Homo sapiens: one gene and its partners. The protein of the gene in region 5 interacts with the protein of the main gene of each other region in a pairwise test. Each region holds a gene or a part of one and is shown on either strand. Other genes may lie near its edges. The genes, in order: CSNK1E, FGFR3, PRDM14, TRIM23, FAM83A, PSMA3 and NCK2.

What was found.
Region 1: the proteins of FAM83A (region 5) and CSNK1E interact in binary tests that used the Homo sapiens proteins (3 or more experiments, as listed by UniProt).
Region 2: the proteins of FAM83A (region 5) and FGFR3 interact in binary tests that used the Homo sapiens proteins (3 or more experiments, as listed by UniProt).
Region 3: the proteins of FAM83A (region 5) and PRDM14 interact in binary tests that used the Homo sapiens proteins (3 or more experiments, as listed by UniProt).
Region 4: the proteins of FAM83A (region 5) and TRIM23 interact in binary tests that used the Homo sapiens proteins (3 or more experiments, as listed by UniProt).
Region 6: the proteins of FAM83A (region 5) and PSMA3 interact in binary tests that used the Homo sapiens proteins (3 or more experiments, as listed by UniProt).
Region 7: the proteins of FAM83A (region 5) and NCK2 interact in binary tests that used the Homo sapiens proteins (3 or more experiments, as listed by UniProt).

The regions. Positions count from the first base shown.
Region 1 is NC_000022.11:38,293,434-38,296,933, forward strand, and holds part of CSNK1E (casein kinase I), read right to left. Parts: intron 1,102-3,500; coding exon 909-1,101; intron 816-908; coding exon 676-815; intron 1-675. Other genes in the region: TPTEP2-CSNK1E (casein kinase I), read right to left, coding at 676-815, 909-1,101.
Region 2 is NC_000004.12:1,799,793-1,803,292, reverse strand, and holds part of FGFR3 (fibroblast growth factor receptor 3 isoform 1 precursor), read right to left. Parts: coding exon 3,481-3,500; intron 1,927-3,480; coding exon 1,757-1,926; intron 1,674-1,756; coding exon 1,550-1,673; intron 1,459-1,549; coding exon 1,268-1,458; intron 380-1,267; coding exon of another isoform or gene 229-379; intron 1-228.
Region 3 is NC_000008.11:70,054,253-70,057,752, forward strand, and holds part of PRDM14 (PR domain zinc finger protein 14), read right to left. Parts: intron 1,150-3,500; coding exon 1,048-1,149; intron 1-1,047. UniProt on the Homo sapiens protein: Transcription factor that has both positive and negative roles on transcription. Required for the maintenance of embryonic stem cell identity and the reacquisition of pluripotency in somatic cells.
Region 4 is NC_000005.10:65,596,834-65,600,333, forward strand, and holds part of TRIM23 (E3 ubiquitin-protein ligase TRIM23), read right to left. Parts: intron 348-3,500; coding exon 218-347; intron 1-217.
Region 5 is NC_000008.11:123,189,165-123,192,664, reverse strand, and holds part of FAM83A (protein FAM83A), read right to left. Parts: intron 863-3,500; coding exon 695-862; intron 1-694. UniProt on the Homo sapiens protein: Involved in mitochondrial maintenance during adipogenesis. May be acting by playing a role in the maintenance of normal mitochondrial function.
Region 6 is NC_000014.9:58,247,843-58,251,342, reverse strand, and holds part of PSMA3 (proteasome subunit alpha type-3), read right to left. Parts: intron 1-3,500. UniProt on the Homo sapiens protein: Component of the 20S core proteasome complex involved in the proteolytic degradation of most intracellular proteins. This complex plays numerous essential roles within the cell by associating with different regulatory particles.
Region 7 is NC_000002.12:105,751,412-105,754,911, reverse strand, and holds part of NCK2 (cytoplasmic protein NCK2), read right to left. Parts: intron 1-3,500. UniProt on the Homo sapiens protein: Adapter protein which associates with tyrosine-phosphorylated growth factor receptors or their cellular substrates. Maintains low levels of EIF2S1 phosphorylation by promoting its dephosphorylation by PP1.

The DNA of each region.
Region 1 (3,500 bases), on a different chromosome or scaffold from region 5:
GGTGTACCCCCACCCCCACCTCCAGGCAGCCCCTCAAGCTGAGGGAAGGCCTGTGTGATTCCAGTGACTCTAAGATGTCCCTGTCTGTAGCTAAGAATGTTGCCCAGGGAGGCAAACCTGCTACCTAAGTAGATGGCCAATGAGGGTTCTCTCGCAGGACTCCCTCCTCGCCCACAGGCAGGAGGACGAGGGCAGGGCTCCCACCCACCTCTGCCAGGCCACCTGCCCTGGGCAACTACAGATTCCCCCTTCCCAAGTGTCCCCATCCAAACATAGCCCCAAAGAGGATGGGACCTCACTGCCCCTACACCCCATGCTCTTGCCAATGCTCACAGGGGCTCCTGGGGGCTCCCTGATGTCAGGGAGCAGCAACACCTCATCTCTGAGCCCCTGCTGCCCACCCTGGCTGGGCCCCTGGCAGCGAGGACTGGAGCCCAGCTGTGCCACTTGCCAGGGAATGTTACTGCCCTGAGCCTTGGTGAATGACTTTGCTCAAGAGGGCTCATCAGACCTCAGAGGATTAAATGAGGCCAAGTCCTGGCTCTACAGAAGGGGTTCACTCCAAGGCAAGCAGCGTCGATGGAAAGGGAAGAACAGAGCCACGGCCTGACCTCCCACTGGGGGGTCTCTAACTCAGTTCTGAGGCCCAGAGGGACTGGCAGGGGGGCAGCTCACCTGTGAGGCTGGGATCCGGGAGACCTCTTGCCGCCCAGTGAGGTCTGAGGAGGAGACGTTGGCGGGCGCACCCCTGTGCAGCCTCATACTCACCTTCCTCTCCCGGTCGACCCGCGAGATCGCTCTGGGAGAAGTATTGCCTGGAGGGAGAGTGGGAAGCCACCCTCAGAGTAGGCACAAACAGAGCCCCCCACCCACCCTGAACCCAGCCCACTGCCTGAGTCCCTGCTCACCAGCCGGCTGGATGCGGGAGGCTGGCGTGGAAGCCACGGGCTCGGCGGCACTGCGGAGCCGGTTGGCAGTGGCCCCCGTGGGTGGGCCAGGGGGCAGGGCTCGGGTCGCGGACCCCCGTAGCTGCCCCATCCTCTCCTCGCGTTCGTGTTCTCGCCGCTCCCGGTCCACATCCTCGGGATTCCGGGCTGCACCCTGCAGGGATGCAAGAAAAGACACCAGTCAGCCCCAGAGGCCAGGGTGCTCTGGGCCCAGCAGCCCTGCAGGGCACAGAAGGGGAGGGAGGCCAGGTGGATATCTCAGAAACCTTCTGCTCCAGCCTCCCTGACAAGCGCGGGAAGCCAAGACCCACAATCACACAGCACAGAGACACGAAGCCACACAACCACCAGAGGAAGGAGAAAGCAGGAGTCTGGGGGCAGAGGGAGGTCAGTCTGCCCTGCTCTCCTGGGATGGAGCCAGAGAAAGGACAACTAATGCGCCCAGGATGATCAAGAGCACCTCTTGGCCCTCCTGACCTGGGGCTGGGCCTGCCCTGGCCCCCCTCTGTGTACCAAGAGCCCTTAACTACTCAAGGTTGCTAAACCGAGCAGGAAAGCTGTTTAGAGGCCTCTAGCAGACTGGCTAGGGGTGTCCAGAGGGGGAAAAGAACAGGCCCAGAGTCACAAAACTAGTGGAAGGCTGGGCTAGGACTCAGACCAGCTCTCCCGGTACCTAGCCAGGGGCTCTTCTCATCAGGGAGCTGTCCTTCCCCCTGCCGGGACCTGGCAATGGCTTCTGGCAGGTGCAGTGGAGGCCACAGCCAGGAGGCCCAGGGAACCCACAGACACCGCCTGCCTTGGGACAGAAGCTCAAGGGGAGCTGGAGAAGAAAATGGGGCCACGTTCCCCACGGAGGAAGAAGAGGCCCAGCAGGCAAAGCTGGAGCAGAAGGGGTACCCTAAGCCCCCAGGTGCCCTGCTGTCCAGCCACTGCCGCCCCTGGTGCAGGAGGAAGTGAGAAGGGGCCAGAGAAGAGCATATGTGGGGGCAGCGCCCGACTGCGTTACCTAGTTCATCCTGGGGCCGTCCACAGGGAAGGGCAGGGGGCTGGCAGGAAGGGGGCCGCATCTGTGGAGGAGAGAGCTCTGGGCTGAGTTGGGGGCCTGCTCATGGGCACAGGGTGTGGTTCCTGCAACCCATGTCTCTCCCAGGAGACTGGCCAAGAGGTGGGGGTGGGCCCTGTCTTTAAGCAACTCCAGGAAGTAGTGGCTAGGACCAGAATGATCCCTGAATCTTAGTGAGGCACCAAGGCCCAGAGAGGCCTTGTGACCTGCCCGGGGTTGCACAGCTCAGGGCAGAGCTAGGGTCTGAACCCAGGCCTCTGCCACCTAGTCCCACTCTGCTCTCTGCACCCCAAGAGGTCACTGTTCAGAGTCTTGCCTTAGAACACTCTAGAAGATGCATCTTCCCATCCTCCCACCCAGAAGCCTCTCAGGCAGGCCTGGGACCACCGGGGCTCTAACTCCTGACCTCCGGTCCTCACCCTGGGCTCCCACTCGGTTGCAGGCTGGCCAACAGTGACTCAGCCAGAGCCACAGCAAAGCCTGGGGAGGAACACGAGCTGTGGCACCTCCGTGCCGAACCTTCTGCGGGCAGAGTCACATCAACCCTGTGAGGCAGGTCAATCTCATTTCCATGCTTGGGATACAGAGGCTGAGTGACTCACTCCAAGGTGTGGAGCCCTGCAGCCAGCAGCCAAGCAGAGGGCTGGAGCCCCTGCCCTTTGTGAGCCCAGCAGGCTCAGGCCATTGCCAGCCCCGAGGCAAGAAGTGGGCGACTCTCCATGGTCCCATCCAACCCATAGGACGCAAGAAACACACAGCAGGGAGCTCTCTTGGCCTTTATTGCCCATAGAAAACATAAAAGGTCAGCAAAGTCACACGAGCATCCACCCGTCATCATATGGACCTCTGTCCTTGGCTGTGTTGAATTCCTTCCCGGCCAGCTGACTGGACCTCGGAACACAGTGGCTGTATGTGCTGAGAGTGGCTTCCAGGCCCCAGGGATCCACAGATCCCAGCACCCCGGTGCAGCCAACAACACAGGGTGTCCTGTCTACTGTTGGGTAGCATGGGAAGGGCCTGGCCTCAGGGTGAAGGTTCCCATTGCATGTTTTCCAGGTGCTTCTGCCAGGGGACTGCTGGAGGTGGTTCAGCTCACTACAGTGGCCGTGGCATTGAGTCAGAGATTGGCAAAGGATAAGGCTGTGGGTGCCTCTGCCCAGCTTCTAACTCCAGGGCCTGCCTCAAGAGGGACTTCCAGGAAGGCGGTCAGACCAGCAGCAGTGGGTGGAGAGGTGCTCCTGGCCTGGTTGGAAAAGAGATCTTGCTGGCTAGACAGTCTTGTGAGACTCCATAAGGGAGGAACCTAGAGCAGTGATGTCCACAGAACGTTCTGGATGAAGGAAATGGTCCCATCTGCCTTGCCGGATGTGGTGGCCACTGGAGGGCAGTGGCATGATCTCAGCTCACTCCAATCTCTGCCTCCTGGGTTCAAGCGATTCTCCTGCCTCAGCCTCCCAAGCAGCTGGGATTACAGGAACACACCACCATGC
Region 2 (3,500 bases), on a different chromosome or scaffold from region 5:
CCTCCTGTGGGGGTCGCAGGCGTGCGGGAAGGGTCGGCGCAGGCCACAGGGCTCGAAGCGGGCGGTCACCGTGGAGGCTGGAGCTGCCAGCCTTGCCGAGGCGGCCCCGAGTGGAGCGCGAGCCGGGGCGGGAGCGAGCAGGGCTGGGCGTGCGGGGCGTGCAGGGCGCGCGGCCAGGGCCTTGGAGCTGGAGCTCTTGTGCCGGCCGGCATGGGACAGAGTCGTTACCTGCTCGGGGCCCGTGAACGCTCAGCCAAAAGGCCTTCTCGGCCACGCCTATGAAATTGGTGGCTCGACAGAGGTACTCGCCCCCGTCCCGCTCCGACACATTGGCCAGGCGGAGGCGCACGTCGGCCTCCACACTCTCACTGATCCAGGACTGCGGGGACAAGAGACCCGGCTCAGGCACGCCCCCGAGGCAGCCCCGCCGGGCACGAGGCAGGATGTGGGAGACCCCCAAGGTACAGATCGAGGCTGGGCTGCGTCAGCCCCAAAGGCTGCCTGGAGGAGGCGTGGAGGCACTTCACGGTGGCTGTGGTTTCACAGGATGCACGTCTCTGCCTCCACCCCAACAACCCAGCCCAGACCCTCAGACAACCTCTGGTCACTGGCCTGCCCTCCCCCGGGCTCTTGCAGAACCTGCACCCTGGACAGGGCCCGAGGCGGCCTCTCTGGGCGGGGTCTGGACTCCACCCTCGCCCTGCGCCTGCTCCCCGCCCCCAAGAGACCGTCTTCTCTCTGAACAGATGTTTCTCTTTGGGCTTTGAGTGTCGCAACCGTCCCAATTCAGTGGCCCCCACCCGGCAGCCATGGGAACAAAGCTAAGGGCTTCAGGAGGCGGGCAGACAGTGAGCTCGGGCCCCACTGCACACAGCTGACGAGAGCCAATCGGCCAGGTCGGGGCTCAGCCACCGCCTCTGAGGCCCAGAGGGGGCCTGGAGGGCTTGGCCACACTGCCCTCCTGTCCTGGGGCACCACTGCTGCCCAAGCCGCACCCACCCCCAAGAAGCCCGTGGGCAGCTCCATGTCAGGGACTTCAGTGGCTGAGGCTGGCCCTCTGCAGACACGGAAACGGGTCCCAACGCAGCTGCCTATGGCCCTGAGGTGTGGGGTGGCTGAGACTTGGCCCCACAAGCACCCCCACAGCTTCTGCCCCCGAAGCTCCAACCCCTAGACCCAAATCCTCACGCAACCCGCAGCCAAGGGGCACCCTTGGGGCCAGCCCAGGAGCCCCAGCGGCGGCACCCACGTGCACACGGTGGCCCACCTTGAGCACGGTAACGTAGGGTGTGCCGTCCGGGCCCACCTTGCTGCCATTCACCTCCACGTGCTTGAGCCACTGGATGTGGGGCTGTGCGTCACTGTACACCTTGCAGTGGAACTCCACGTCGCTGCCCAGCACCGCCGTCTGGTTGGCCGGCAGCCCCGCCTGCAGGATGGGCCGGTGCGGGGAGCGCTCTGTGGGGGCAGATGACGCTCAGGGGCCACCCCCTCCCTCACCACCACCGCCACTGCCGCCCCCACCCCCGCGCCGCCCCAGGGCCCTCACCCAGCACGTCCAGCGTGTACGTCTGCCGGATGCTGCCAAACTTGTTCTCCACGACGCAGGTGTAGTTGCCGCGGTCCGAGGGCACCACGCTTTCCATGACCAGGCTCCACTGCTGATGCCGCAGCTGCACCGGGACGCGGGCGGGTGAGTGAGCGGAGGCAGCAACCACCGCGCCTGCCAGGCCCAGAGCCACCCCGCCGCGCCCACCTTGATGCCTCCAATGCGGTGCTCGCCGCGGAACTCCCTGCCGTTCTTCAGCCAGGAGATGGAGGGAGTGGGGTTGCCAGCGGCTGGGCAGCGGAAGCGGACGGTGTTGGCGGCCGGCACGGCCAGCAGCTTCTTGTCCATCCGCTCGGGCCGTGTCCAGTAAGGGGCCCCTGCGGGCCGAGGTGCGTGTGAAGGCCATGACCCGAGTGGGAGCAGAGGCCCCTCTGAACAACCCCCTTCCCAGAGCTGCCCCTGCCCATCCCCAGCCTCAGTTTCCCGTCCTGTGTAGGAAGAGGGCGGGATGAGGTTCCCAGGAGCCTCCACATCTTGTCCCCTCCCCGGGGCTTTCTCAGAGCTGGGCCGTGTGTCCCCTCCCCTCCCCTCCAGGGTGCTCTGCCCGGACCTGTGAAGTCACAGGGCACAGGGCATTGTCCAGGGGAGCCCACCTGCCCAGAGAGGCGTGCCAGGGCCAGGCCCACCAACGGGGAGACTGAAGACCCAGGGGGCAGGCCCATCTAGTGGACAAGCCAGGACCTGGGAGCAGTTTACCAGGAGAGGAGCCCAGTCGCCTGCAGAGCCAGGAGCCTTGGAGGCAGCTGGGCAGCATGGGCCCACGGAAATCAAGACCCTACACCACCCTCTGCAGAGCTCCAAGTCTGGCGGGCACCCAGAGACGGTGGCACCCTGGAGGCCCTGCCTCCTCCCATCTCGATGTCCAGGGCTCCCACCACCCCTCTCACAGCCCAACTGGTTTTTCTCCTTCCTCAGGGCTGGTGCTGCCTTCCTGCCGGGACTCCAGGCAAGGATGGGCTGGCATTCCCCAGGAGGGAAGCAGCCCTCCCCTCAGTGAGCTCACTGCCAGCCCCCTCCAGGCACACGCCCATCAGGGGCACTGAGGCCCAGCAAGCAGCAGTGTGGACACAGGCTGGAAAGAGGCACCCCACGGTGCTGAGCTCCCTCCCAGGCCTCCTGGAGACCCCCAGGGTGAGTTCCCCCAGCTGTTTCTCTCATGGACTCAGCCTCCCTTCCTCACCTGCTTACCCCACTGGCCCAGGGACCCAGCGCACACACCATCAGTCCGCAAGTCGTAACTGCCCCCCATGTCTGTGCCACGATGACCCTCACCTGCACGCACTCCCCTCAGAGCTCCCTCCAAAACCAGAAGCCCCACCTCCCCACCCTACAACTTGGCAAAGTCCACCTGCCACCGTTCCAGGCCGGGACGCCAGGCATCGTCCCCGACTGCTCTCTCACAGCCGCAGCCCACCCACCAGCCACCCTCCTGCCAGCCACCCTGCCCGCCACTGGTTGTGGCAGGTGCCCCGGCGCCCTCACCCCGGGTCCATCCACCCCACGGCAGCCACCTGAGTGCCCTGCCCTGCTGCGCTAATGTCTGCGGGGTCCACCTCACCTATAGCCAACACCAGAGCCCCACAGGCCAGCCCTGGCCTCCTCCTGCTCCTGGAACCCCCAGGGCCCTGTGCCTCAGTCTCCCCATCAGCAACACGGTGTCCCCTTGCACCCCAGCCCTGCCACCAGGGTGGGGCATCTAGAGCCATGTCAGTGACCCAGCCCCTCCTGTATCCTGAGGGGACCAGACCTTCGGGGTGACCCCAGGGAGGTTGTTCCGGGGCCTTAGTCCCTCAGCTGCCTGTGAAGGGCAGGGCTTGGCGGTGGCAGCGGGCCCCACCCCGGCTGGCCTGAACCCTGGACCCTGCTCCTACCTGTGTCCACACCTGTGTCC
Region 3 (3,500 bases), about 53 Mb from region 5:
AGCATCCTTCACAGATTAAAGTAGTAATAATAGCAGTTAACATTCCAGTAGTACTTTTATGTTATGCCAGGCACTGTTACAAGAGTTTTATATACTTTACTGATGTTATCCAACAACTTGGTAAAGACTATTCTCCCCAGTTTATCAATGTGGAAACTAACAGGAGTTCATGGACTTGCTCAGGGTGGCACAGCTAGGTAAGCACCAGAGGCAGGATTTGAAACTTGGCCATGTTTGTGTTCTTAAATACTATGAAATAGTGATTTTTTTTTTTTTTTTTTTTTGGAGACGGAGTTTCACTTTGCCACTCAGGCTGGAGTGCAGTGGCACAATCTTGACTCACTGCAACCTCTGCCTCTGGGTTCAAGTGATTCTCCTGCCTCAGCCTCCCAAGTAGCTGGGATTACAGGAACGTGCCACCATGCCCAGCTAATTTTTGTATTTTTAGTAGAGATGGGGTTTCACCATGCTGGCCAGGATGGTCTCGAACTCCCTATCTCCAGGCACCTGCCCACCTCAGCCTCCCAAAGTGCTGGGATTACGGGCTTGAGCCACCACGCCTCCCCACCCCCTCCTTTTTTTTTTGAGACAGTGTCTCACTCTGTCACCCAGGCTGGAGTGTGCAGTGGTGCAATCTTGGCTCACTGCAACCTCCACTTCCTGGACTCAAGCAATTCTCCAGCCTCAGCCTCCCAAGTAGCTGGGACTACAGGCATAAGCCACCGATGCATGGAAAATTTGATTATAGGTGTGAGCCACCACACTCAGCTAGTGCTTTTAAATACTATGTAATAGGTCATCAGGTCCCCATAAATTTGGAATGTATTTTATTACATGTACTCTAAATGCCAGCTTGGCAATAGGAGGTTGGTTATATTTGACCATCTTTAGCAAACTTGAGCATATTTAGGGGTGGAAATGAGGACTGGGCTGATATTTGACTAACATTTACCAAGAACTCATTAAGCCAGGCTTTGTTTCAAGTTCTTATCCATAGACACTCAAGCAGAGCTCAGGACACATCCCTTAGTAAGAGGTTCCATTTACCTTAGTACAATACACACACTGGTATGGTCTGTCTCCAGAGTGGACTCGCATGTGTTTGTTTAGGCTGGAAGATTGAGAGAAACATTTCCCACATGTAGAACACTAAGGTGAAAAAGAAAAATATAGTTGAAATCACACCTTCCTCTAACAAGTCCATTTCAACCTTGCGTTTACCTGGGGTTAGAGAAGAACTCTTTTCCAATTTTTTTCTTTTTTTTTTTTTTGAGACGGGATCTCAATTTGTTACCCAGACTGGACTGCAGTGGCACAATCACGGTTCACTGCAGCCTGGAACTCCCAGGCTCAAGCGATCCTCCCACCTCAGCCTCCTGAGTAACTGGGACTACAGGTGCGTGCCACTAAGCCAGCTAACTTAAAAAATTTTTTTTTGTAGAGATGAGGTCTCACTATGTTGCCCAGCCTTGTCTTGAACTCCAACAGATCCTCCTGCCTTGGCCTCCCAAAGTGCTAGGATTATAGCCTTGAGCCACGGCACCCGACCTGAGAGAACTCTTGCTTCAGATGTGGAATGTGGGAACTGAACAGGTTTGTGGTATATGGCAGAGGCCTGAATTAGTCCTGCTCTCTCAACAGGTAGCTGTGTGACTACAGAACATTGGTTAAATCTGGAATCTTAGTTTCCCGATCTTGCTCATGGGCAAAATACCTGCTCTGCCTTCCTCACAGAGCTATGAGTAAACTACAAGTACTGTGCAATTAACTCAACAATTATCTACGACTTACAGAGTACCTACTGTGTGCTCCACACTGCTAGAAACCAGGAGCTAGAAATCAAGGAGGGGTGACGATGAACATGTAAGCCAACATGGTAATGCACAGTAGCAGATTATCTGAGACGTGTTGAACTTGCATGAAGAGGTTAATATTTTGTTCACACGCTGTGAATAATTAATATTGTTTCTTGACCCTGGCAACTCCTCTCGAAACTGTCTCAGGAATTCTACACCAGGTGAAGTAAACTACCAGAGAGGTGCAAGCACCGAGAGTTTGCCAGGGATAAAGCAGAAGGCCTTTGGTTTTGACATCACTTTTAAGGAAATTACACTAACTAAAGAGAAAAAACAATTTTTCTCTGAGAAAGGTTTCTGTGCTTTCACAACCTCTTTCCAGGCATGCTTATGGGGCAGAGGAGAGAGCAAATCTTTGTATTTGTTTATTTATTTATTTTTATTTATTTTTGAGGCAGAGCCTCGCTCTGTTGCCCAGGCTGGAGTGCAGTAGCATGATCTCGGCCCACCGCAACCTCTGCCTCCTGGGTTTAAGCAATTCTGGTGTCTCAGCCTCCCGAGTGGCTGGGACCACAGGTGCGCACCACATGCCCATCTCTACAAAAAATACAAAAAATTAGCTGAGCATGGTGGCATGCACTTATAGCCTCAGCTCAGCTACTTGGGAGGCTGAGGTTGGGTGATTGTTTGAGCGTAGGAGGTGGAGGTTGCAGTGAGCTGAGATCATGCCATTGTACTCTAGCCTGGGCAACAGAGTGAGACTGTCTCAAAAAAAAAAAAAAAAAAAAAGATTGTTCCTCCACTGTACTGTAAGAGCACCTCGTCTGTTGAAGGGTAAGCCATCATCTCACTATCACCAGCTTCCTCATCAGTCCTGTCATCTACTGACCTCCTGGTTGACAGCCCTCCAGTTTCTTTTCTTTTTTTTTTTTTTTGAGACGGAGTCTCGCTCTGTCACCCAGGCTGGAGTGCGGTGGCGCGATCTCGGCTCACTGCAAGCTCCGCCTCCCAGGTTCACGCCATTCTCCTGCCTCAGCCTCCCGAGTAGGTGGGACTACAGGTGCCCACCACCACGCCTGGCTAATTTTTTGTATTTTTAGTAGAGATGGGGTTTCACCATGTTAGCCACGATGGTCTTGATCTCCTGACCTCGTGATCCACCTGTCTCGGCCTCCCAAAGTACTGGGATTAGGCGTGAGCCACCACTCCCGGCCTCCAATTTCAAAGAGAGCAAGCATTCTATACATCTTCTGTAATTTGGTTTTTGCTTGATAAGACAATATTTTTTTTTTTTTTTTGGGATGGAGTCTCACTCCTGCCACCCAGGCTGCAGTGCAATGACACAGTCTCGGCTCACTGCAACCTCCGCCTCTGGGGTTGAAGCAATTCTCCTGCCTCAACCTCTAGAGTAACTGGGGCTACAGGTGCCTGCCACCACACCCGGCTAATGTTTTTATATTTTTAGTAGAGATGGGGTTTCGCCATGTTGGCCAGGCTGGTCTCGAACTCCTGGCCTCAGGTGATCTGCCCACCTCAGCCTCCCAAGGTGCTGAGATTACAGGCGTGAGCCACTGCGCCTGGCCAGTAAGCCATAATTTATATAATCAATTTTGTGTTGATGAACATGCAGTCTCAAACTTTTCACTATCAGAATACTGGATAGTTTTCACTTTTGCCAGTCTAATAAGCGAGAAATACCTTCAC
Region 4 (3,500 bases), on a different chromosome or scaffold from region 5:
TTCCAACTGTCCCACCAATACTCTGTTTCTTCTTTTTATCCCCATCCACATTTCAATCCCATAGTCATACAATCTTGCATTTTTTCTCTGAGATGCTGATATCTTAGAGCCAGAAAAGAGCCCACCACCATGACAGATCAGTATCAAATAAGACCCCAAGAACTTGGCTGTAAGCTAGGGTTTGTCTATTAAGGTAAAAACCAATATTCATACTTACCAATTGTTGGAATGGGCTGCATGAATTCATCCTGTTTTAACTTAAACAAGATAGTAGTTTTTCCAGCACCATCCAATCCTAACGTAACGACCCGAATTTCCATTTTTGGTCCAATGTGAACTCGATTATCCTACAATTTAAATATTTTTAAATATGTTTGACATGCAGTTAGAAAGTAATAGCATTTAGCACCTTTATTATTTCTACATCTCCTATTCATTCCTCAACCATTGCAATCTGAATTGTATTCCTCAAAATACTGAGTCTGATCTCAAGAAGATGAAATCCTTCCCCATGGCTAAATCTTGCCTTAGTAAAACTGACCACTTTGTCTTTGTATAACAGAATATACATACCCACTTAATTTTCTCAGATTTTCTAACTCAAATGAATCCTCTAAATCTTAAACATGTTTTTATGCTATACTAAAAAAATCACAATAAGGGTAAATCAATTAAAATGAAAAAGTGCTGCTCAATTCCCAGAAATTTCTACTATGAATCTGATGTATATCCCTCCAGACACTTTCCATGCACATACTGGCCAACATACACAAACAAAACAAATTTTTTTTTAAAAAAGTATTACCCACACATTGAAACTAATGTGTTTCACTCAACAGTATATTATGGAATCCTGTCAATACATATTGACCAACCTTTTTCTTTTAATGGCTTCTTTACATTTCATAAACCACAATTTAACTAAACCCCCAACTGATAGATTTTAGGTAATTTCTGATTTTATGATATTACAAATAATGCTATAATGAACATTTTTATATATTACTAGCTGCATGATTTCTCTGCTTCACTTCTTTCATCTCATAAAAGGAGGATTAAAATAGTACAAAATTTACATAGGATTCTTGAAAGGATTAATTTTTAAGAATACATATAAAAGTCCTTACAACAGTTCCCAAAATATATGTGTTATTTTTGCTTACTCCTTTGAGCACTCTTTGCTTGGATTTTATGATACAAACTTTTCCTGGTTTGGTTTTATCCCATTTTTGGATGTTCCTTCTAATTTTTCTTTAATCCAGCTCTTAAATGTTGGTATTCTTGAGGGTCTATATGAGGCCTCCTTCTCATTCTACATATTTTCATTCTCTTCATGAGCTTTAATTACCATGTATATTATGGCTCCAAATCTATACTTAAGTCCAGTTATACACCTCAGAAATAAAACAATATATGGAACAGAACTACTTCTGTGAGAACTCTAGAGAACAGTTAAGAAACTACAGCACCCAGGCCATAAAACCAAGAAGGCATTCCAGTGAAAGGGGTAATAAAATTTGGGGCATTCTGTGCACTCATCCCTGCCCTTCCCCATATCCAACATAGTGAGGATGAGGTGCAACCAGGAGGAAACTACAAAATACTAGCAAACTGAATTCAACAACACATTAGGCCGGGCGTGGTGGCTCATGCCTGTAATCCCAGCACTTCGGGAGGCCGAGGTTGGGGGTGGATCACCTGAGGTTAGGAGTTCGAGACCAGCCTGACCAACATAGAGAAACCCCGTCTCTACTAAAAATACAAAATTACCCAGGCATGGTGGCGCACGCCTGTAATCTCAGCTACAAGGAGGCTGAGGCAGAAGAATCGCTTGAACCCGGAAGGTGGAGAATGCAGTGAGCCGAGATCGCGCCATTGCACTCCAGCCTGGGCAACAAGAGCGAAACTCCGCCTCAAAAAAAAAAAAAACACATATTAAAGGGATTGTACGCCATGACCAAATGGGCTTTATAACTGGAAGGCAAGAATTATTCATCATCAATCAGCATAATACACAGAATGAGAGAAAAAAAGCACGTAATCATCTCAATAGTTGCAGAAAAAGCATTTAACAAAATTCAATACCCTTTCATAATAAAAACATTCAACAAACTAGGAGTAGCAGGAAACTGCCTCAGTTAACATACACCATATAAGAAATGCCCACAGCTAACATCATACTCAAAAAACTGAAAGCTTTTTCTCTAAGATAAAGAACAAGAAGATGCCCACAGAGCAATTAGGCAAGAAGAATAATAAAAGACATCCAAATTGTAAAGGAAGATGTAAAATTATATCTCTTCACAGATGACATGATCTTGTATGTAGAAAACCCTGAAGAGTCCACACAAAAAGACCTATTAGAATAAAGTCAACAAAGTTTCAGGATATAAAATCAACATGAAAATCAGTTGCATTTCTATACATTAATGATAAAAATCCCAAAAGGAAATTAAGGAAACAATTCTACTTAAAATAGCATCAAAATTATACTTTCAGGGATCATTTTTATAGTTTATGACTAAAGAAGTTTCTCTGAACATGTACAGAAAAAAAAGTTTAAGATACTTAGGAATAAACTCAACCAAGATGGTGAAAGACTTAAGATACTATGTTGGTGCAAAAGCAACTGCGGCTTTTGCCAGTACTTTTAATGGCAAAAACCACTATTACTTTTGCACCAACCTAATATGTAGGCGTACACCTAACCAAGATGGTGAAAGACTTGTACACTAAAAACTACAAATATTGCTAAAATAAATTAAGACATAAATAGACATTCCATGTCCATGGATTGAAAGACATAAAATATTAAGATATGAATAACAGCCCAGGTAATTTATATAGATTCAATGCAATCCCTATCAAAATCCCAATCATGTTTTTTGTGGAGATAGAAAAAATTAAGCTAAAATTTATAAGGAAGCTCAAGTGACCCTGAATAGCCAAAACAATTTTGAAAAAGAAAAAAGTTGGAGGACTCACACTTCCTTACTTCAAAATATATTACAAAGCTAATGTATTGTTCTGTTTTTGCACTGCTATAAAGAAATACCTGAGACTGGGTAATTTATAAAGAAAAGTTTAATTGGCTCACAGTTCCACAGGCAGTACAGGAAGCATGATGCTGGCATCAGCTTGGCTTCAGGGAAAGCCTCAGGAAACTTACAATCATGGTGGAAAGCAAAGAGGGAGTGAGGCATTTCACATGGCAGGAGCAGGAGCAAGAGAGAGGGTGGGGGAGGTGCCACACACTTTTAAACGACCAGATCTCATGAGAACTCACCTATTATGGCAAAGACAGTACCAAGGGGGATGATACTAAACCATTCATGAGAAACTGCCCCCATGATCCAGTCACCTCCAACCAGGCCCCATTTCAACATTGGGGATTACAACTGGAAATGAGATTTGGGCAGGAACATAGATCCAAGCCATATCAGCTACAATAATGAAAACTATGTGGTACTGGCATAAAGATGAGACATACAAACCAACAG
Region 5 (3,500 bases):
CTTGCCTGAACTAGAGGAGACTGATCAAAAGAACTCTGAGGGCCACCAATCAGCTGTTCACCCAGGCCTACTCATGAAAGCTATGGGTGGTGTTCACATTTGAATTAGTTGTCCTCAAATTTATGTGATGAATCAAACCCTTATCGCTGGGTTTCTTTTCTCTTTGCCAGGAGAGGGAAGTACGGGGTTCAGTTAAGTCCAAGAGGATCAATGTCTTGTTGGGACCAGGGAGTTCTGAACATGCACCCACAGACCCTGGAGGTTGCCTGCCCTGTAAGATGCAATCCCTGGGCTTCCCCAGCTGAGAGGAGAACTGGAGTACATGGCAGAGATGCTGCTCACCAGATACCCATGACCCTTTACATTTCCCAGCATCCGTGCATCTGGGTAAGGTCAATGAGTTATAAGAGAAAGCGATGGAAATCTCCTCCAGGTCAGATCCTGGAAACATCCTGCAGAGTCTCCCAGCCTTCTCTTTCCCTGTCATGGTTATCTTAGAGGCCGTGTATTTCTCATGATGTAGCTACAATATGGAGGAGGGCCATCTGACCTACATAGGAGTTTGTTTGAGCAAGAAATGAACCTTTATTGTGTTAAGCTATTAACACAAGATGAGGGACATTTGTTACTATTGCATAGACTATCCTATCTGGGCTAATATGAGTACCCTTAGGACTCTCATTGGGGCCCCTACCTTGAGGTGACTGTCAGAGATCTGGACTTTGTCACACATCTCCTGGAAGAGCTTCACACCTCCCTGGTCCAGGAGCACACAAACGAACACCCCACGCTTGTTGGCTGCCTCTAGAATGTCACAGAAGATCTCCACATCCGTGAACACATCCATCAGGATGACCAGGACCTGGGCCAGGGCAGAGTGCTCAGTTACCAGAAAGGTCAGGGGCAGGTGCTAACTGGTTTCACCCAAACTGCCTGAGTCCCAGTGGGCCTGGGAGAGCTGTTCCCATTGGGCCAGAGGGGAGAGGATGGGGTAGAGTGGGTCTGACTGGGCAGGATTAATGGAAGGAAAAGGAAGAGCTGGAGTGGAGGCCCCTGCGCCTGTCCTGATACCATCTCTCCAGTCCCACCACCTATCTGTTGGCCCCTATGCCCATTGTGGGAGTGGGGAGTGCAGAGGAGGAAGGGAAAAGTCTAGAAAGAGAAGGAGAGCAGAGAAGAACAAGAAGAAGCATCTCAACCGGTTCCAGAAGAGGAATAAAGTTAAGGTTATGGATTCTCAGCCACTTGGAGCTAGAGGGCACACTATGGCCACTGATTTTCAAATGCTGTTAAGCCGTGGAATCCTATCCTCAAACAAAATCCCATGTGGAGGCACCGTATATAAGCGCCTAGAGCAAGCTGCTCCCCGTGGGATGGAGAAGGGAGTCACGCTCTACCCACAGCTACTGCATCATGTGTCACAGTAGAAACTGGGGAGGGGAGTTCTAGACCTTCAGTGAGCAGGAGAGACATCTGTGTTCCTCCTGCCAAGCATTCATTCTCCCTTCTTCTGTCAACAGCATCCCAATCTGACTTTAAGTAATTGCCTCCCCTCCACAATCAATGTGGTTTGGAAGGGTCTATTGCCATTCTTTGACTGGATATGGGGAGACCACATGACCAAGGCTAGACCAATGGGAGCATGGCATCCCCTGTTGGCCACAGACATTGGTCCAGAGGTGGTCACATGATCTAAGTTATTCTAATAAGAGTCAGCCCAGGACTTTAGCTGGGACTCCTGGGAAAAGGAGGTGTTCTTTCTACGAGGTTGCTTAGCTGGTATTTTATAAGCAATGGCTGCTGGCAACCATTTTTGCTACCTCTTGGGGAGAGCCTGCCTGACAATGAAGCCATCCCTGGAGAAAGCAGCCAGGAGGTAGAGACAGAGTCCCAGCATTGTCATTTGGACACCTGGTTCCAGCCATGCCTGAGACCAGTGCCACCCTTGACTTTTCCACTGTGGATGTTAATGAATGTTTCTCTTCTTCTTAAGCTTGTTTGGGTTTACTCTCTGTCACCCAGTCATGAGTCCTTTCTAATACCTTAATTGTGATATACTGACAAGCAGCTTATTAGGCAGTCATTAAAAATGTTAATTACTGCCGGGCGCGGTGGCTCACGCCTGTAATACCAACACTTTGGGAGGCCGAGGCGGGCGGATCATTTGAGATCTGGAGCTCGAGACCAGCCTGATCAACATGGTGAAAGCTCGTCTCTACTAAAAAAAAAAAAAAAAATTAGCTGGACTGGTAGTGCACGCCTATAGTCCCAGCTACTGGGGAGGCTGAGGCAAGAGAATCGCTTGAACCCAGGAGGCAGAGGTTGCAGTGAGCCGAGATCGCACCACTGCACTCCAGCCTGGGTGACAGAAAGAGACTCTGTCTCAAAATAAAAAAATAAGAAAATACATAAAAATTTAAAATGTTAATTTTCTTTCTTTCTTTCTTCTTTCTTTCTTTCTTTTCTTTCTTTTCTTCCTCTCTCTCTTTCATTTTTTTTCTGTAGACATGGGGTTTCACTATGTTGCCCAGGCTGGTCTCGAACTGTTGGGCTTAAGCAATCCTTAAGCCTCAGCCTCCCAAATTGCTGGGATTACAGGAGTGAGCCACCCCACCTGCTCCATTATAATCTTATGGGAGCACTGTCATAGATGTGGTCTGTTAGTAACCAAAATGTCATTATTCCGTACATGATTGTAGGTAAGCCCAAAGCAAAAACTAACAGTCATGTTAGGATGGGGGATGTGAACCCAGAAAATAAAACAGGGCTCAGTTAATTTAGAAAGTTTATTTTGCCAAGGTTGAGGACATGCCCGAGGAAGTCCTGACGACATGTGCCCAAGGTGGTCGGGGCACAGCTTGATTTTATACATTTTAGGGAGACATGAGACATCAATTAATAGATGTAAGAAGTACTTTGGTTCAATCTGGAAAGGTGGGACAACTGGAAGCAAAGGCAGGAAGACTCAAAGCCAGGAGGGAGCATCCAGGCCACAGATAAGTAAGACAAAAACTGTTGCATTCTTTTGAGTTTCTGATTAGTCTTTCCAAAGGAGGCATCAGATATGCATCTATCTCAGTGAGCAGAGCGGTGACTTTGAATAGAATGGGAGGCAGGTTTGCCCTAAGCAGTTTCCAGCTTGAGTTTTCCTTAGTGATTTTGGGGGCCAAAGATACTTTCCTTTCACAGGGAATACGGCCATTCCCTTTCTTCAAGATTACCTGTAATAATAAGTTTCCACTATCTTTCTAATCATTGCAATATATTTTTTAAAACCACCGCCATCTGGGAAGTAGCCAAGGAAAGAGAGGTGTCTTACTGGCAGGCCAAACTGATGGCTGGTATCCACTTGGAATCAACTTTCTGTGATGTGGATGGATAGCTGGACAGGGGAGGGAACTCCTCAGAGATTGCTCACCCTGGGCAGGAAATCGGAAAAGATGTTCTAATAATGAGGCTGTGATCATTAGAACCATGGCCCTGTAATCACACAATTAATT
Region 6 (3,500 bases), on a different chromosome or scaffold from region 5:
CTGCACACCAGTCTGTGCAACAGAGTGAGACCCTGTCTCAAACACACACACACACAACCTCAAGTAAAATGTGGAGAAATTACTTGTTGCCATTTCAAGATGAAAATGTGTTACACTTTATTCTTCTATTCCTTTTTGATAAAGGTAGTTCTGATCGGAAACAATAGAGACAAAATAAGCAATGCTTGATTGTACAGTTTTCTGGTAAAATTATCTCAACTTTCTCTTTCTTCTTTTTTTTAATTTTAAAGAAATGGAGTCTTGCCATGCTGCCCAAGATTGAATTGAAGTCTGAGGCTCAAGTAATCCTCTCACCTCAGCCTCAGTAGCTGGGACTACCGGCACAACTTCTCTGTTTTGGATAATAGCATCACCAAGCTCTACATCCTCCATGTTGAGCTTCTATTTACTATTAATTTTTTTCTTCAAAATTTCCTTCATGTCCACTTCTTTACAATAATTATACCAGCATTGGGATCCTTATAATTTCAGGCCTAGATTACTACACCATCTTTTCTACTTCTCTAATCCGTTTAATCTAAGACCAGCCTAATTCCTAGCTGTGTTTCATTTTGCCATAGTCAGAATCTAAAAAGGGATCCACAATCTAAAAAGCAGGGGAATTGTGTTATTCACAGGCCTCTTAAAATCTGATGAAACTATGGCATTTCCTCCCAGAAAAATGAACAACAGATGCACACAACAAATTTTCTAAGAATTTCTGACACTCCTTCCCCAACACTTTAGGTGTCTTCCATGGCTCCCCTTGCAAGTTTAAACTCCTAAGGGTCTGGCAGAACCCCCTGAGCATATTCAATTTCCTGTTATAAATTCTGTACTCTACTGGTTACCTCACTGTCAACCTTCAAAAACCTCATGTTCATTTTTGATTCCATGTCTTTGAGGTTATCCTGGATGCTAGAATACATTTCCTCTTCACTACTGCCTATTTAAATGAATTTCCCCAAAAGGTTTGCAAACTTAGTTGAACTCAAGCAGTACAGGTCAGAATGTAACCTCAGGACTTTGGAAGGCCCAAGTGAAAGGCTTGCCTGAGGCCAGGAGTTCAAGACCAGCCAGGCCAACATTTTGAAACTCTGTCCCTATTTTTTTTTTTTTTTTGGAGATGGAGTCTCGCTCTGTTGCCCCAGCTGGAGTACAGTGGCGTGATCTTGGCTCACTGCAACCTCCATCTCCCGGGTTCAAGTGATTCTCCTGTCTCAACCTCCCAAGTAGCTGGGATTACAGGCGCGCACTGCCATGCCCGGCTAATTTTTTGTATTTTCAGTAGAGACGGGATTTCACCATGTTGCCCAGGCTGGTCTCGAACTCCTGAGCTCAAGCAATACACCTGCCTCAGCCTCCCAAAGTGCTAGGATTACAGGCGTGGCTCACGCCCAGCAGGAAGCCTGTCTTAATTATCTCAACTCAACATCTTCCACACTGTTTAAAACATTCTTGAAAATCTGGAAATCTCTGAAATCCTTTCAGGCAGTCTTCGAGGTCAAAATTATTTTCATAAGAATTCAAAGACTTCGGCTGGGTGCGGTGGCTCACACCTATAATACCAGCACTTTGGGAAGCCTAAGCAGGCGGATCACTTGGGCTCAGGAGTTTGAGACCAGCCTGGGCCACATGGTGAAACCCTGTCTCTACAAAAAATTTGCCAGGCGTGGTGGCACATGCCTGTAGTCCCAACTACCTTGTGGGGCTGAGGGAGGAGAATAGCTCGAGACCAGGAGGTCGAGTCTGCAGTAAGCTGTAATCACACCACTGCACTCCAGCCTGGGTGACAAAGCGAGATCCTATGTCCTGCCCCCAAAAAAAGTTTTTTTTAAAAAAAAGGAATAATAAGCCAGGCGCAGTGACTCACACCTGTAATCCCATCACTTTGGGAGGCCAAGGCAGGAGGATTACTTGAGCCCAAAAGTTCAAGACCAGCCGAGGCAACATAGTGAGTGAGACCATGCCTCTTTTTTAAAATAAATAAACATTTTTTTTTAAAATAAGAAACTAGCATTTGTTCACTTTGGGTGTAGTATCAAAGGACAGGTTAATACATCTTTAAAAAGAAGAACTTTTAGGCCGGGCGCCGTGGCTCATGCCTGTAATCCCAGCACTTTGGGAGGCTGAGGCAGGCGGATCACCTGAGGTCAGGAGTTCGAGACCAGCCTGACCAACATGGAGAAACCCTGTCTCTACTAAAAATACAAAATTAGCGGGCCATGGTGGTGCATGTCTGTAATCCCAGCTACTTGGGAGGCTGAGAGAATTGCTTGAACCTGGGAGGCAGAGGTTGCGGTGAGCCAACATTGTGCCATTGCACTCCAGCCTGGGCAACAAGAGTGAAACTACGTCTCATTTTTAAAATCCTAGCTTTTTCTGAGACAGAGTCTCTGTTGCTTAGGCTGGAGTGCAGTGGTGCAATCTTGGCTCACTGCAACGTCCACCTGCCAGGTTCAAGTGATTCTCCTGCCTCAGCCTCCCAAGTAGCTGAAACTACGACGTGTGCCATCACACCCGGCTAATTTTTGTATTTTGTTATTTTTTAGTAGAGACAGGGTTTTACCATGTTGGCCAGGCTGGTCTCAAACTCCTGACCTCAGGTGATCCGCCCGCCTCAGCCTCCCAAAGTGCTGGGATTACAGGCGTGAGCCACCACGCCCGGCTGCATTTTTTCTTCATTCAGGAAAAAACACATTCGTTTTTAAGGTTTCAATTTTTTAAAGATATTTCCTCATATTTGCATAAATCTGACTTTTTAAAATCGTATTTAGGCTGGCCACAGTGACTCACGCCTATAATCCCAGCTCTTTGTAATCAACGAGAAATATAGGACTGGGGCTACTCTCTGGGAGTCCGAGGTGAGCGGATCACTTGAGGCCAGGGGTTTGAGACCAGCCTGGCCAACGTGGCAAAACCCCGTCTCTACTAAAAATGCAAAAATTATCCGGGCATGGTGGCACATGCCTGTAATCCCAGCTACTGGGGAGGCTGAGGCAAGAGAATCACTTGAACCCAGGAGGCGGAGGTTGCAGTGAGCCAAGATCGTGCCACTGCACTCTAGCCTAGGTGACAGAGTGAGACTCAGGTCTCAAAACAGAAACAGACATAGAAAAAATCTTTGCTGAATCGAACATGTGACTAATTGCATAAGACATTTAAAACACAAGATGTATGAGAAATAAAAAATAACAAGGTCACAAACCTAATGGCTGAGGAAGCCTATGATACAAATCAAGAATTTGAAAATGGAAAACAAAAAGATGATAATGAATGTGATTTATACACTCTGCAACATGGAAAATCTAAGTGGATAATCCTGGAATCAACGAGAAATATAGGACTGGGGCTCATGGAAAGCATCTGGCCTAGAAAGAGATCTGGAAATGAATAAATTGAGATTTGGGGACATATACTAATTTGTACCAAAGTAACATAACAAAGCCTAATCGCCAAAAATATATAAAATAAAAGGAGACATGTAATACCTGGTTAAA
Region 7 (3,500 bases), on a different chromosome or scaffold from region 5:
TATAACCATCTTGCTAGATTCTGCAACCAAGGTTGTTTCACTTTTTTTTAATCGTTTGATGAAAATTCACTCTTCACCTATATTAAATTTCCCAAAAACTGTCTCAAAATAACTCCCTGAATCCCTTGTTATTTCTTGGTCTCTTAAAAATATTCAAGTAGCTTGTGCTTTTTATGTCAATGTCTCCAAGCTGGCTTCCATCATGCAGAGCAGTTTAAAAAAAAAAAAAAAAAGTTGTTGGGGGAGCTGCTTTCTTACCAATGCAGCAGCTCCCCCCAACCTCCCACAGACACACACAAACAGGAATACAAGCTTTTAAAGTGATTGTCCTTAAAATGAAGACAGCTGATGAGAGGGAAAGCATGAAAGAGACAGCAACTGCTCTCCTCTCCTGTAGCCAGGCTCATAAGTGACATAATTAAAATATTTGTTGACTTGCAGACATCCTTAAACACGCAACCAAAATTCTTAAGATATTAAATGGGAGACATAACCGTTAAGGAAAATCGAAGGAGACATTGATGGACTTTGTCCTCTAAGATGGGCATGGGCGTCTTTCTAGGCATCTCCCTGTGATCTCACCACTTTCTAACTTACTTTTCACTTCTCACTTCCTGGCTGCCCCCACCATTGCTGGGAAATTAAGCATGTTGAAGTAAACAATTCTTTGCCACCACATATCCTGGAACCTGCTACGTGTAGAAGTGGCCACATGAGAGGTAGTGTGACTGCAAATCTAAACCTGTGAGTTGAAAGAAACTGCCCAAATTGCAGCCCCTCTGAAACTTGGAACATGCAGGAGCTTCTCCCAACAGAGACGCCAGACTCACCGTCCTATCTCAGTCCCATCTGCTCCAGGGAGGGCTGCTCAACACTCTGATGGCCCCAGTGGCCCTCCTAACACAAAAGGGTAGGTTCGAGAAGCTGGCACAGACAACTCACTTGGAAGAGCAGCCAGTGTCAGAGTTCCCATCAGGACCTGTAGCAGCAGTCTCCCAAGAATCTACATTTGGACTTGACCTGGCCTCTCTCACAACCTCAGAAGCAGATTTCAAAGCCACCTTGGAATTCTTCAAGACCTTCCCAGATGTCATAAAAGCACAAAGGAAAAGGATTTGGTATGTCCTGCTACAAGGTTTTCAGCAAGAACCTACCTGCCTACCTTCACTTCAACAACAGCAACTCATTAAGGAAAAACAGAAGCAGCAAAAATGGCCTTGTGCAAGCTATTCCAACAGCACAAAAGTCCGGGGGCCACTTGGAAGAGTGAGAAGACACACACTCCTGTTTTCTCAGCCCCCAGTGTGGAGGAGACAAGGGTGGGGACCCACCACACAGCTACTGATGAAGAGGCACATCACACAGGCATTTACAATGGCACCTGCATGACCACTTGAGCTAATACACTGTGACTACAACAGAAAATACTCCCCCTCATCCAGTGCCACTGCAGTTCCCTCCAGCAGCGGTTCTCCCCAGGGAATGCTGGTGTTTCCTGCAGAATTGGAGACTTGGGCAGGTGGAGGACCACCAGCCTACGGAACATAGCAAGGGGGCTGGGGGAGAGGAGCAGCCAGGCCAATGGTCCTCAGTGATGACCATCCAAGGCTTCCCCTCCTCCAAGGTACCAGTTATTCATTAGGCCCTTCCAAAGTCCAGGGCCTTCCCCAACCACTTGGCTGATAAGGCGTTCCCAGAATGAACCTGTATGCAAGCTACACTCCCTATCAATGATTTTCCATCAATGTTTCTCAAATCTTACACCATAATAAAAGTTTACAGTTCTGTTTTATGTATTTTCAGATACATCTTAATGAAGGGATGGTGGCTAGCTTGGTCAGAGTCTAGCTGTGGAACCTAAGACATGGCAGCCTCAGTGCCTCCCTTTCCTTAGCGATGAAGATACAAACAGAAAGTACCACACGTTCTGTTGGTGAGGACTCAATGAGTTATTACATGGAAAGTGCTTAGAACAGTGATTACAATGTGTGTGTGTGTGTCTGTGTCCGTGTGGGAGAGAAGCTAATGTTCACTTTAAAAATACATGATTTTAGCTTGTACTTAACATGTTATCAGAAATATGAATACTACAGATGACTGGATAAAGAAAATAGACTATTCAGCCATAAAAAAACAATGAAATCATATCTTTTGCAGCAACACAGATGGAACTGGAGGCCATTATCCAGACGGAACCAGAGACTTGAAGGGTGATGGGGTAGGAAGGGGTGGATGATGAGAGATTACTCAATGGGTACAATGTATGTTATTTGAGTGATGGATACAATAAAGGTCCTGAATTCACCCTTAGGCAATTTATGTAACAAAATAACACCTGTACCCCATCACTGTATACAATGTTGTTTTTTACCTTTCCTATGGTGCTGAACACATTTTTTAAAAGGAAATGTGTTGAATACTGATATACAAAAATGTTATTTTACACTGGTAACTTCTAGAATTCAAACCACATTTTAAGATATTTGTAAAATGAACAAGGTATTTTGATGATAGATATTAGTTTTAACTGAATCTGATTTTAGTGCTCTAAAACATCATGTGCTGAGTGTCTGAAGGATGACATTACTCCTCATATTTAAAAAGGTTACACCTTTCCCAGTAAAGCATAATAATAATGACCATTATAATTATTCTACATTGTTTCCACTTTGTCTCTTTAGCTATCTCAACTTTGGAAAACAGACAGCAAATGAGGCTTAAATCATGAAAAGTGTATAGACTCACACTCCGCAACAAGGCTGCCACTAGTCGCGTGTGGCCAAGGCCAATCAAAATGCAGCGAGAGGCAGCCAAGAGGTGCAGTAAACGTATATACTATATGCTGAATTTCAAAGCCCTCACGCAAATAAAAGAATATGAGTTATCTTATTAATTACATTTTATGTTGATTACACATAGAGTTTATATATATATTGGGCAAAATATAGGATGAAAATTAATAATACTTGTTTGGTTTTACATTTTTAATGTGGCTACCAGAACATTATGATTACATCTGGGGCTTGCATTTGTGGTTCACATTGTATTTCAAGGGGTCAGCACTGCTCTTGACAATCCATCAGTTCAAATGGCATTTGCAGGGAGACAGTCCATATTAAAACACACATACGCACCATTTTCTGCAGTTAGTCTCTTCTCCTCCCATGACAGAGAGCTGGGCCCATGCTCAGTTCCATGCAAAGCTGTAGTGGGGTAGCCCTGCCATTACTGCACAGGAGAACCCTGAACCAGTCCCAGTGGAGAGAGTCTTTAAAAACAAACTGATTATAAACTTAGTTTTGTTATCACAATTAGCAAACCATCAGTGGGTGGCCACAGATGACTTGTAGCTCAGCATGTGTGTATATGGGGAAGGGGATATTTAGATGCTGGGAGAAACAGAGAGGCAGCCCAGTCGTGCAAGCCCATGACTGCCATGCTGGGGACTTGAGTCACTGACCCAAGTACGATGGAGAGCCACCGTGTGCAGGTCATGGCCA